Linked DNA regions of Homo sapiens: region 2 is linked to region 1. Evidence: fine-mapped expression QTL. A gene starts in region 1. The other region holds a variant in brackets. All regions are shown on one strand. Distances are between the middles of the regions.

What was found. PIP is the estimated chance that this variant, and not a neighbour inherited with it, causes the effect. A credible set is the group of variants that fine-mapping cannot tell apart.
Region 2: its variant is the best candidate, but not a certain one, in a credible set for the expression of XPC in atrial appendage (GTEx, PIP 0.68).

Annotation. Positions count from the first base shown.
Region 1 is chr3:14,175,991-14,181,360 of GRCh38, reverse strand. It overlaps XPC (XPC complex subunit, DNA damage recognition and repair factor), which reads left to right and starts at 2,760. Exons shown (of 16, transcript NM_004628.5): 1 at 2,760-2,895. The coding sequence starts at 2,793. It overlaps LSM3 (LSM3 homolog, U6 small nuclear RNA and mRNA degradation associated), which reads right to left and starts at 2,544. Exons shown (of 4, transcript NM_014463.3): 1 at 2,480-2,544. The coding sequence starts at 2,500. RefSeq lists enhancers at 2,451-2,500, 2,601-2,950 and a silencer at 3,001-3,120.
Region 2 is chr3:14,132,313-14,137,682 of GRCh38, reverse strand. It overlaps TMEM43 (transmembrane protein 43), which reads right to left. Exons shown (of 12, transcript NM_024334.3): 5 at 5,088-5,137; 6 at 4,748-4,817; 7 at 3,874-3,944; 8 at 2,792-2,913; 9 at 2,451-2,525; 10 at 1,775-1,876. Among named protein-coding and RNA genes, the nearest start is that of TMEM43, 9.9 kb to the right of the region's middle. The variant A/G (reference allele first, on the strand shown) is at 1,989.

The DNA of each region.
Region 1 (5,370 bases):
TTTTCACATAATACGTGCTATATAAATGTAGGTTAAAACACACATACATGAGAAGTTACACAGCAAAATAATCATGACTATACTTTGTTCCCTCAAAATCCAAACTGCCTGACCCAATTTCAGGGCATAGGGTCTCAGGGACTTTAGCTTTATCTCAAATATTATGTAATCATTGGAAAAACACTCACTTAATGCCTACCATACACTAGTCAGAATGCCAAATAGAGGTGTAGGTTTATGGGAAGATTATGAATTCAGCACAGGTTGAGTTTAGGCTGCCAACTGGTGAATAAGATAAATATATTTAGTAGCCAGTATAGAACACTGGTTGAAAGCACTGGCTTAGCCGGGCATGGTGGCACATGCCTGTAGTCCCAGCTACTCCAAGGGCTGAGGTGGGAGGATTGCTTGAGCCTGGCGAGGTGGAGGTTGCAGTGAGCCAAGATCGTGCCACTGCACTCCAGCTTGGGCAACAGAGTGAGACTCTTGTCTTTTTTTTTTTTAAAAAAAAAAAAAAAAAAAAAAAAAAAAAAAAAAAAGGCAAGCAAGCACTGGCTTTGGAGTCAGGCAGTCCGGGTTCAACTCCTGGCTGTGACCTGACATTTATGAACTGAGATTAAAAATCATGCCATCTGTAATTCTCAGATTCTTCATTTGTAATTGAGAAAGCCACAACCTTCTTTCTGGGTTCTTATGAGGATTAAACTAGTTAATGCATTTAAAAACAGTGCCAGGAAAACAGAAAATATTAATATTTAGAAATGGTTCCTATTGGCCGGGCGTGGTGGCTCACGCTTGAATCCCAGCACTTTGGGCGGCTGAGAAAGGCAGATCACCTGAGGTTAGGAGTTTGAGACCAGCCTGGCCAACATGGTGAAACCCCATCTCTACGAAAAATACAAAAATTAGCCAGGTGTGGCGGCACGCACCTGTAGTCCCAGCTACTTGGGAGGCTGAGACAGGAGAATCACTTGAACCCAGGAGGCAGAGGTTGCAGTGAGCTGAGATCACGCCACTGCACTCCAGCCTGGGCGATAGAGTGAGACTCCATCCAAAAAAAAGAAAAGAATAGAAAAAAAAAGGAAAAGAAAAGATTCCTATTAATATTATATTATTACAGAACTGCTGGAAACATTGGTTTTAGAGGTCAGGGCTAGGATGACTTGGGGTCACCCACATGGAAGGGATGGTTGCAGCCGCTAAGAGTTAGAAAGATTATTCAAGGAGAGCTTCTTCAGTAAGTACACAAGGCCAGTGGAGGAAGGTAACTGAATTGGTAACAGGCTCTGAAGATTCAAAAGGCCTGATGAGAGAAAAAAATAACCTAACTCAACTGGTCCCTATGTCCCTCAGTTCAACAAGTGTTTGTTAAAGGATCAGATAACCAACTGTTAGATTACAATGATAGAGAAGTCACAATCCCCACCCTCAAGGAGCTCATTCTACTGTGGAGAGGCATACAAATAATTATAATACTGTAAGAATATGCACATGAAAAAGCCCTACTGCTACCTAAGCCTCTGTCTGGGATGCCCACTGTCTGCTCTTTTCATCCTGTAGCTTTAAATATTGGCTTCTCAAAGAGGCTTCCTCTGATCATCTAACTCATTCACTCAAATATTTTTTGAGTGTTTCCAGCACTGTTCTAAACCCCAAAGACAAAAGAATGAACAAAACAAAATCCCTGCTCTTATGGCATTTACATTCTAGTGGGGAGAGATTCACATTAAACAAAGATGCATACATTTAATATGAAAAAATAACTCTCTATGAAGAAAAATGAGGCAGGGTAACCAGAGTAGCGGGAGTGCTATTTGGGCAGAAGTCCTCTCTGAGGAGGTCAGATTTCAGTAGAAAGTTTAAGTTGTGGCATGATCTCCAAAGATATTTGAGGAAGAAAAAGACCAGGTGAAAAAGCTTCTAGGACCATCTGTTATTCTGCATACCAGTTCCTTGTTTCCTTCACAGCACATCACAGTTCCTGGAAGTCTTACATATTTATATTTACTTTTATCTGTTCTCCTCGCAAATATAAGCTCCAAGTAATGGCAAGGATCTCTTATATGTCGATGTCAGTGTCCCTGGCCCTTAGAACAGTGCCTAACCATACAAAGCTGATGTTCACTCTATCTGCTGAATGAATAAATAATTGTTGCGCTCACTAATGATAACAACTCCTAACTTTATTACCTGGCTTTCTATTGGAATCCTGACAGCTCCATGAGGTAGCTAAGGATAATAATCTACAGATTTAAAAAAATGAAGCGAAGAGTGTGAGAATAGTCATCAGGTGGGCTTCTAACAGGAAAAGGTCTCAGGGCCTACGGCAAAATTCGGAGGGGGGGTTACGGAAAGGACAGGGTGGATTAGGCCATGGTGACTTGGAGAGAGGAGGCACGACTGGCCATTTTTCCTGAGTCTGGAAAAAGCAGCCTAGTACAAGAAGCTCCTTCGAGCGACCTCCTTAAAATACACTTACCTGGTCTACGTCGTCCGCCATGTTTCAAACCCTGCGCCCTTTCCCGCCTCTCGCGAGAACACAAGAGCAACGTCAATCTCCGGAAACGTGAGGATACAATACACCGGAAATAGAGAGAAACCTGTTGTGCTCTTTCCTGCTTCCCGCAGTTTTTTAGTGGCCACGGGTATGGGGTGGAGCTTCCTTTAGGGGCGTGACTAGGCCTCCAACGAAGGGGCGTGGCCAAGCGCACCGCCTCGGGGCGGGGCCGGCGTTCTAGCGCATCGCGGCCGGGTGCGTCACTCGCGAAGTGGAATTTGCCCAGACAAGCAACATGGCTCGGAAACGCGCGGCCGGCGGGGAGCCGCGGGGACGCGAACTGCGCAGCCAGAAATCCAAGGCCAAGAGCAAGGCCCGGCGTGAGGAGGAGGAGGAGGGTGAGAGCGAGGCCCAGCGGGCTTCGCGGGAGACGCCGCCGGTGGGCGGAGGAGGCCCAGAGGCAGGGCGGGAGTCCAGACGCGGAGGCCTGGTGGAGGTTGCTGCGCGCGTTCCGCGCCGTGGGGGCAGCCCGGCAGGCTGCGGCCGGCCCTCCCCGCTGTCCCCGCGTCTTTGTCCTGCGCACCCAGAGCGGTTTCCCGCGAGCTTCGCCCGATCCAAGCTCCTGCGTAGCTTTTTTCCCGCTCCCCGTTGTCCAGAGGATACAGATGTTCAGGGTTGAACTCGGAGAAGGCAGTTATTTGTGTCCCAGGAAGACAGACGGACGGACCAGGACGTAGAGTGATGCAGTGTGCTGACTCCCGAATGATAACTTCAGCTGAGTCTCACCCAGAGTTCCACAGTGGGATCCCACCTGACTTCCCCTCATGGATATTTGATAGGCTTCTTACATTTGTCATGGGCAATGCAGAACTCATGGTTTTCCTCTTTAAATCTATGCTTTCCTCCGTTTTTCCAGTCTCAATACTTGTTATAAAGCAAAGCCCACCTTTTTCTTATGTCCACACATCCAGTCCGTCAGCAAGTCCAGTCAGTTCAGCCTCAAGAGTGTATTTCAAATTTGTCCACTTCTCTTCATTTCCATGACCACAGCCCCTGTCCAAGTCATCATCACCTTTCAGTTGAGTGACTGCAGTTTCCTCTTTACTGGCCTCCCAGCTCTGCATCCAGCAACCCAAATAATCTTAAAAAAAAAAAAAATCATGCCCTGCTCCTGCTTTAAACTCCCCTTGGTTTTCCATTGCTCTTAGCTTAAAATCCAGTTGTTTTATCCTGGCCTACAAGATACTACATGTTTTGGCTCTTGCTACCTCTCCTGTTTCTCTTACCACTTGTTTCCTTGCCAGATACCCTCCTTATTGGCCTCCTTTCTCTTCCTCAAATATGCCAAGTTATTCCTTGAGTCTTTTCCTTTGATGTTCCTTCTGCCTAGAGTGAACCCCCCATGGCTTTTACCAGGGCTGATTTTTTCTATTTCTTCAAAACTCAAGTTAGACATTCCTTGAGCAAACTAAGGTGGTCCTTCCCAGATACCCCGCGGATACTAAAACCTGTGATGCTCAAGTACCTTATATCAAATGGCCTAGTGTTTCCATGTAACCTATGCACATCCTCCGACATACTTTAAATCATCTCTAGATCACTAATAATACCTAATACAATGTGGATACTATGGAAATAGTTGTCATGCTGTATTTTTTAAATTTGTATTTTTTTTCCCGAAATATATTCATCTGTGGTTGGTTGAATCTGTGGATGCAGGGCCCGTGGATTGGTAGGGCTAAATGCTAAATAAATATTTTATTTATTTTTTATTTTTTTCGAGACAGTGTCTCACTCTGTCGCTGAGGCTGGAGTGCAGTGGCGTGACCTCCGCCTCCTAGGTTCAAGTGATTCTCCTGCCTCAGCCTCCCGAGTAGCTGGTGTTACAGGTGCCTGACACCATGTCCGGCTAATTTTTGTATTTTTGTATAGATGGGGTTTCGCCATGTTGGCCAGGCTGGTCTCAAACTCCTGACCTCAGGTGATCCGTTTGCCTCGGCCTCCCGAAGTGTTGGGATTACAGGCATGAGCCACTGCGCCCGGCTAGTAAATATTTTAAATAATTGCAAAATGCAGGCTGTAGAAGGAATTTCTGGGTCTCCTGAAAAAACTGGGTAGATTAGACTAGGTAACCGGCAAAGGCTATCACACTAGATTCTGTTTCTATACCGGTTATAAATTCATCATCCATTAGGAAATAGTGAAATGGTAATAATTCGTAAACTTAGGAGGTGATTTACCTCATATGTAATATTACGAGTTCCATTTTATTCACTCATTTACTCATTCAAATAACATCTTTTGAGTATCTACTATGTGCTGTACATGAATGAGGTGACATGAGAGATAAACATATCTTGGAGGATCATAGAGTAGTGTTGACATGACATTTACATGTAAAACATTCAAGGCAAAGTGTGCTAAATATTGTGGAAGAAGGTACAAGGCTTTGTAGCTTCCAAAGGATTAATCAAGTTTGACTGGCGTGATCGGGGAACGCTCTCTGAAGTAGTTTGATCTGTGATTTAAAGGATGGTTGGTATTTTAGCAAGGGGTCACAAAAAGGGGCCGGTATTCTAGTCAGAATGTAATTTGGATATATGGCAATTAAAAATTTACGGTTTTAATCTGATGGAAATGCTACCTGTATTCTTCCCAGCTCAACACTTCACCTCGGTTCCAGCTTGGTAGAGCTTCAATTCTTAGTTTTATGCACTTGGGTGAATTATTTTGGACAAATGTTTTAGCCCTTCTGAATTTCCTCTGTGAAATGTAATAACTGCCTTGCGGGGTGGCTGTGAGTTTTCAGTGGGATAGCATATAAAGCCAAGAGCTTTAGCTTTACCCATGTTAGGTAAATTAGTTGGGCTAGC
Region 2 (5,370 bases), 44 kb after region 1:
GCAGTGCCAGGGCCGTCTGCAGTGTGCCTGCTTGGGCAGCTGTACTCTCCTGCCCCTGGGACTGGAATCGGGGCATCCTGACTTTTGCCCTGAGCTGCCTGCCTGGCTCTGGGCCTTTTTTCTACTTGGCAGAGACCCCAGACCTTGTGTGGGGGTGGGGGCTGGGCTGGGGGAAGACAGGGCTTTGGGGCTGCTAAGCAGCAGGAGACCCAGGGGGTAAGGAGGCCGCCTGAGCATCTGCACTGCAGGGCCTTCCTTTCTGGGGCATTACCTAAGCCATGGGCCCCATCCACTCCTCTCTGGAGGGGCGGCTGCGTGAGCTGGGCCTCAGCCCTGGGAGAGAGAGCAAGGCCTGGACTGGGCCTCCTAATTTTAGAAACTCGCTGGGGACCCTCAGCTGCTGGTGGAAGGGTGACTCATGGCCTTCTAGGCTGGGAGGTGGCAGCCCTACCCTGAGGTTGGTAACTGGGCTCCTGGGCAACAGCCTGACCACACCCTAGCCCTGGCCAGGTACCAGGAGTTGGTGAGGCCCAAGCACCACCACAAGCTGGAGGCTAATGGGACAGATGGCTGCTGAGGATCTAATAATAGGAACAAAAGGTCACAGCTAACCCCTGATGCCTGTCTGCTGCCTTGACCCTTTCTGGCCACTCTGGAATGAAAACCCCAGCAGTCCTGGTTAGGGCAGGTATAGAGTGCCCCACCAGGGATACCTGTGTTCATCAACAACAGAAAAACTAAAGACTCAATTCTTCTGCTGCAGAGAAGGATTGCCTGCCTAGAGAAGACAGGCTAACTTTTAAGGCACAGAACTGAACTAATCAGCACATCTTGGCACCCCTTCTCCTTGGGACCCGGGGTAGGCATAGCCCTCCCTATTTACAATGGGAGAGGGATACTCAGGTAGCTGAGGCCCAAAACCCTTCCCCGCCCTCCTAATGTTCTGGAAGGACACAGACTTTGGTGGAGCCCCCCCACCCACTCCCTCTCCCCGCTCTGGGCTGTGGCCACAGCACTCCGGGTGCCCCCTTAGAAGGTGAACCCTTTCGTGCCCAGACTGGGCTGTTCTTGCTGGAACTGACTGATCACTGATTCTTCTAGGGTTAACCCCTTCTCGTCAGCAAAACTCACTTGTCAGAGGCCCTGCTTGATCACTGCAGAAACGGATGTTCTACTCTGACGTCCACTGGTATCAGAGCACCTGTTCTCCTCTTTCCAACACTCGGCACGATGCATCAGTACTTACGAGTTTCTGTCACTCTCACTCCTCTACCGGACAGTCTGTGAGGCACAGTGAGTTTAGTGCCTAGCACAGTCCTGCACACTGAGGGTTCATGACAGACTCAGCATCCACAATCCAAAAACCCAAATGCTGAAGTGCTCCAAAATCCAAAACTTTCTGAATGCCAACATGACGCCACTAGTGGAAATCCCACACTTGACCCCATGTGACGGGTTGCATTGTATAAAATCACCTTCAGGCGATGTGTACAAAGTATACATGAAACATAAATAGATTCTGTGTTTAGACTTGGTTCTCATCCCCAAGAGATCTCATTATGTATATACAAATACCTGCAAATCCAAAAAAATCTGGAATCTGAAACACTCCTGGTCAAACACTTTGATGAGGCATACTCAACATTCCGCTATTTCTTCTTCTTGCCTCATTCACTGGCTATGACCCCTGGTAGTGTGATCTTATTAAATAACCACTGGAAGGAAGGAAGGACATGCTTGTTCCTCCACCGTACGAGTAGGGCACAGCACTCACCTCTGCTGAGAAGTCCCCGTGGTGCAGGAGCAGTAAGGTATCCCCAGACTTGGTGGAGAATGGGACTAGCTGGTCACCCCGCTGCCGGGCAATCACAGTGACCTGGTCAGAGGACCTGGTGTTAGAGCTGAGGGGTGACCAGCGGGAGACACGCCCACGAGAGCCATGGCCCACCCTCCCGGGACTGGGTGCCGGCTGGGGAAGTGAGCACAGA[A/G]ACCCTGGGGCTTCTCTCTCTATACATCCATCTGGGATGCATCCACCTCTGCAGCTCTGGCTGAGCTGCTCCATTCAAAGCTCCAGGCATTCAAAGCTCTTGGGCAGTGCGCAGAGCAGGGGATGGGGCAGGACTGCACATAGGCCAGGAACGCAAGACCAATTATTGACAGATCAAAACGGGCTTGGGGAGAGGGTCTGTGTGTGACTGGAACACCTGTCATAAGGTGCGACTATGAGACCCCTTTTGAGCTGCCCTTCTTAACGTGGGGTCCATGGATGGCTGTGGGGACATGGGAGCTCTGAAACTGCTCAGAAGCGTGCCTGGCTGAGAGTGTGTGCGAGAGTGTGCCTTTCCCCAGGGAAAAGGGGGTCCAAGCGCTCCTGACATTGACCAAGGTGTCTGTGTCCAGGAAAGTCGTGAGGCTCTGACTTAGTGTCTGCCCCTGGGAAGCCAGGTTACCACGTGAGCTGGGCCCAGGTCAGGGTCATCGCCGCTCAGTCCAGCATAGGAAAAGGAGACACGCAAGTCTCCCACCTGGGGGTGGAAGAGAAGCAGGGAGAGTGAGGAACGGAGTAGCTGGCCCAGGCCCAGGTCCAGGATGCCTCGGCTACGCCCCTCAGGCTCTTCTCCCACCTCCACACCCGTGCCCAGGCTGTGCCGTCACCCAGAGGGCCTCTCCCACTCAGCTGCACTTGGCCAAGTGCAGCTGTGCATGCGACTGAACTGAATCTGCCTGGCGCAGGAACCTGATCCTAGCGCCCTGACCCTCCTATTTGGAGAGCCCAGGCCTCTCCGCACACCTCTGGATACTTGGGATTTTCGCTGTGGTAGAAAAAGTCTCCACGGCGAATGATGTCCACATGAGGGTCCTCCAGCTTGGATAGGCTCAGGGACTTGAAGTTGTCGACTTTGTCGATGAGGCCTGAGGGGACCAGAGTGGTTAGAAACCCAGGGGACCAGGTGAAAACCTCAATCTGCAAAGTCCCTGGCCTGACCCCCTTCCACTGCACCCCTGGAGCCTGCACACGTGGCACTCCCACCTGCAGTGCCTCTTTCTGACTCTGTCTCGTCCACGGCTTCCCCTGGGTTAGACCATCTCCTCCAGGAAGCTTTCCCTGTGCCCTCTCCCACCAAGTCAGAGTGACCACAGCACTGGGAGTGGCCTTAGCCCTTTTCCCTTCCATCAAGGTTACGGCCATCCACGTCCAAGCCTGACTCACCTCCTGGGTTGAGAGCTACTTGAGGGCAGGCCCAGCTGGCACACAGGCACCATCCAGCAACAAAGCACACAGAAAGCGGCCAGGCCAGGCCCAGGATCATCCAGCCTCCCCAGGACTATCTGGGCCCTTGGTATCCTCTCCCACCTTCATGGGTCAGGCCCAGGAACAGAGCCCCAGGGTTACTCTGGCCCATGGTGCCACCTTATCCCTTGCAAGCTTCTCTTTGGAGTCAATGGGGGATGCCTGTGATAAGCTAGTGCCTTCCTGGGACAGGTGGAACTCAGAGAGGGGGAGCCCTAGGCTGAGAGCACTGAGCCACCACATGTCTACTACTAGCCGGAGTCTGCTTGAGGAAGGACTGTCTCAGCAGAGTCTACTCAGCAGACACCGGCACGCAGCAGGGTGAGGATGCATGCCTGAGTCATTCTCTGGAACAACCCAGATTTCAGAGGAACCTGGTAGGATGGAGTGGGGTGGGGGTTTCTACGTCAGCCCTTGCTTCCTGGGGATTCGCCTTCCCCTGGCCCCCAAAGCATGGTGCTGGGAAAGGTGCAGACTGATCCTGTGCCTTTAGCCCTCTGAAGGCTGAGTACTGGGAGCTCCGGCCCTAGGGGGGCCTTGTGCTTCTGGCACGAGCTCCTCTGGAGAGGCCTGAGACTTACCTGACGAGAGGAAAAACCTGCCAATTTGGACAAAGGGGGCTGTTGCCATGAATGACTCCACTGCCATGGCACTGTGGGAGAGAGGAAGCTGTCAGAGATGGGCACCGGTGTGGGAGCTGCCCGGGTCCCTTTGGGTTGTTTGTGCTGGGCAGGGTCCCCACCCGGGGGTTCCTGCAAGTCCAGATTAGCCCAGGCGCAGCAGACATCTTGTCCTGTCCACCCCCAGGGGCCCTGTGCCCCCTCCCCTGGGCTGAGCACCCTCACTCTGTCTCCTGTTCCCCGGAGCTTCCTACCCTCTTGCCTAGACCCCTGCCAGCCTGTCCTGCCCCACCCACTGCTGTCAGATGTATCTTGCATGGACTTTACACCCCTCACTAGCCCCTCCCAGAGCATTCCATCCCAACCATCTTACTGGCACAGCCCAGACCATTGCTGAACAAGGCCTGCTCTCTAGCCACACCCAAGTGTTATGCCCGCCTCACCACTGGCATGCCGTGGAGCTAACCTCCCTCTGCTGAAATCCTGAGAAGCCTGAACAAATGCCGCTGCCTCTGGAAAGCCTGTCCTGATTGTCCTCCCACCCATGGCAAACCATTAACAAAATGCTTCCCCGGCCCCGTGTGTGCAAATCCCCTTAGACGCTTAGTGCAGGCCTTATATTTGTGACTTGTTTGCGGGGAGCTTGTCTGGGGTCAGGGGAGACAAGTCTCTGTGTTCCTGGTGCCCAGCACAGGGCTTGGTCTCAAACCCATGTCCCACATTTTCAACCCACGAGGCAGGATTAACTCAATCCTGTTATTCAGATGAAGAAACTGAGGCTGGAGACCTGCCAGTGTAGACAAAGCTGCACTCAGGCCTTGGGCCTGGCTCTCACCTGGGGTTTTTGTGGCCAATCTCTCGGTCGAAGTTTTTGCTGTTGATGATTTCTGACCTCCATTCAGTGTCTGCTCAGGGAGAGGAATCAACTCAGAGCCCGGGTAGGAGTGGCACGCGGCTGAGACCCACCAGCCCAGCTCCTCCTATCTCACAGCCAAAGGGGTGGGTCAGGGAGCCTCAATGGATGGGTGGGAAAGCAGGGCTCTGAAGACTTGCACCCAGGGATCCTGATGCCTGGTGCTGAATCCTTCCCATGGCCCCACCAACAGCCCTGCTGTCCAGCCACCACTGTGGGCCCCCACCATGGGCAGAGACCACGTAAGGGGCCCAGCACTCACTGTAGGAATACCTCGTCTCCTTCTTCACCTGCCCATCCTCGGTGTACTCCCTGCAGGGAAAGCAAAGCAGCCACGGGGGTTAGCCTCGTCGCCCCAGGCAGTCTAATCTCTAAGCATCTGAGCAGGAAGCAACCTCAGGGCTACCAGATCAGACTCCCCAGATACGGCAGATGCCTTCTCTACACCAGCCCCAAGACAGGGCACTCACTCCTGACAGACAGCCAGCTCCTGCCCTCCAAGGCGCTACCTGGAGGAAAGCGCTCTCCCATCCTGAGCTGAAATC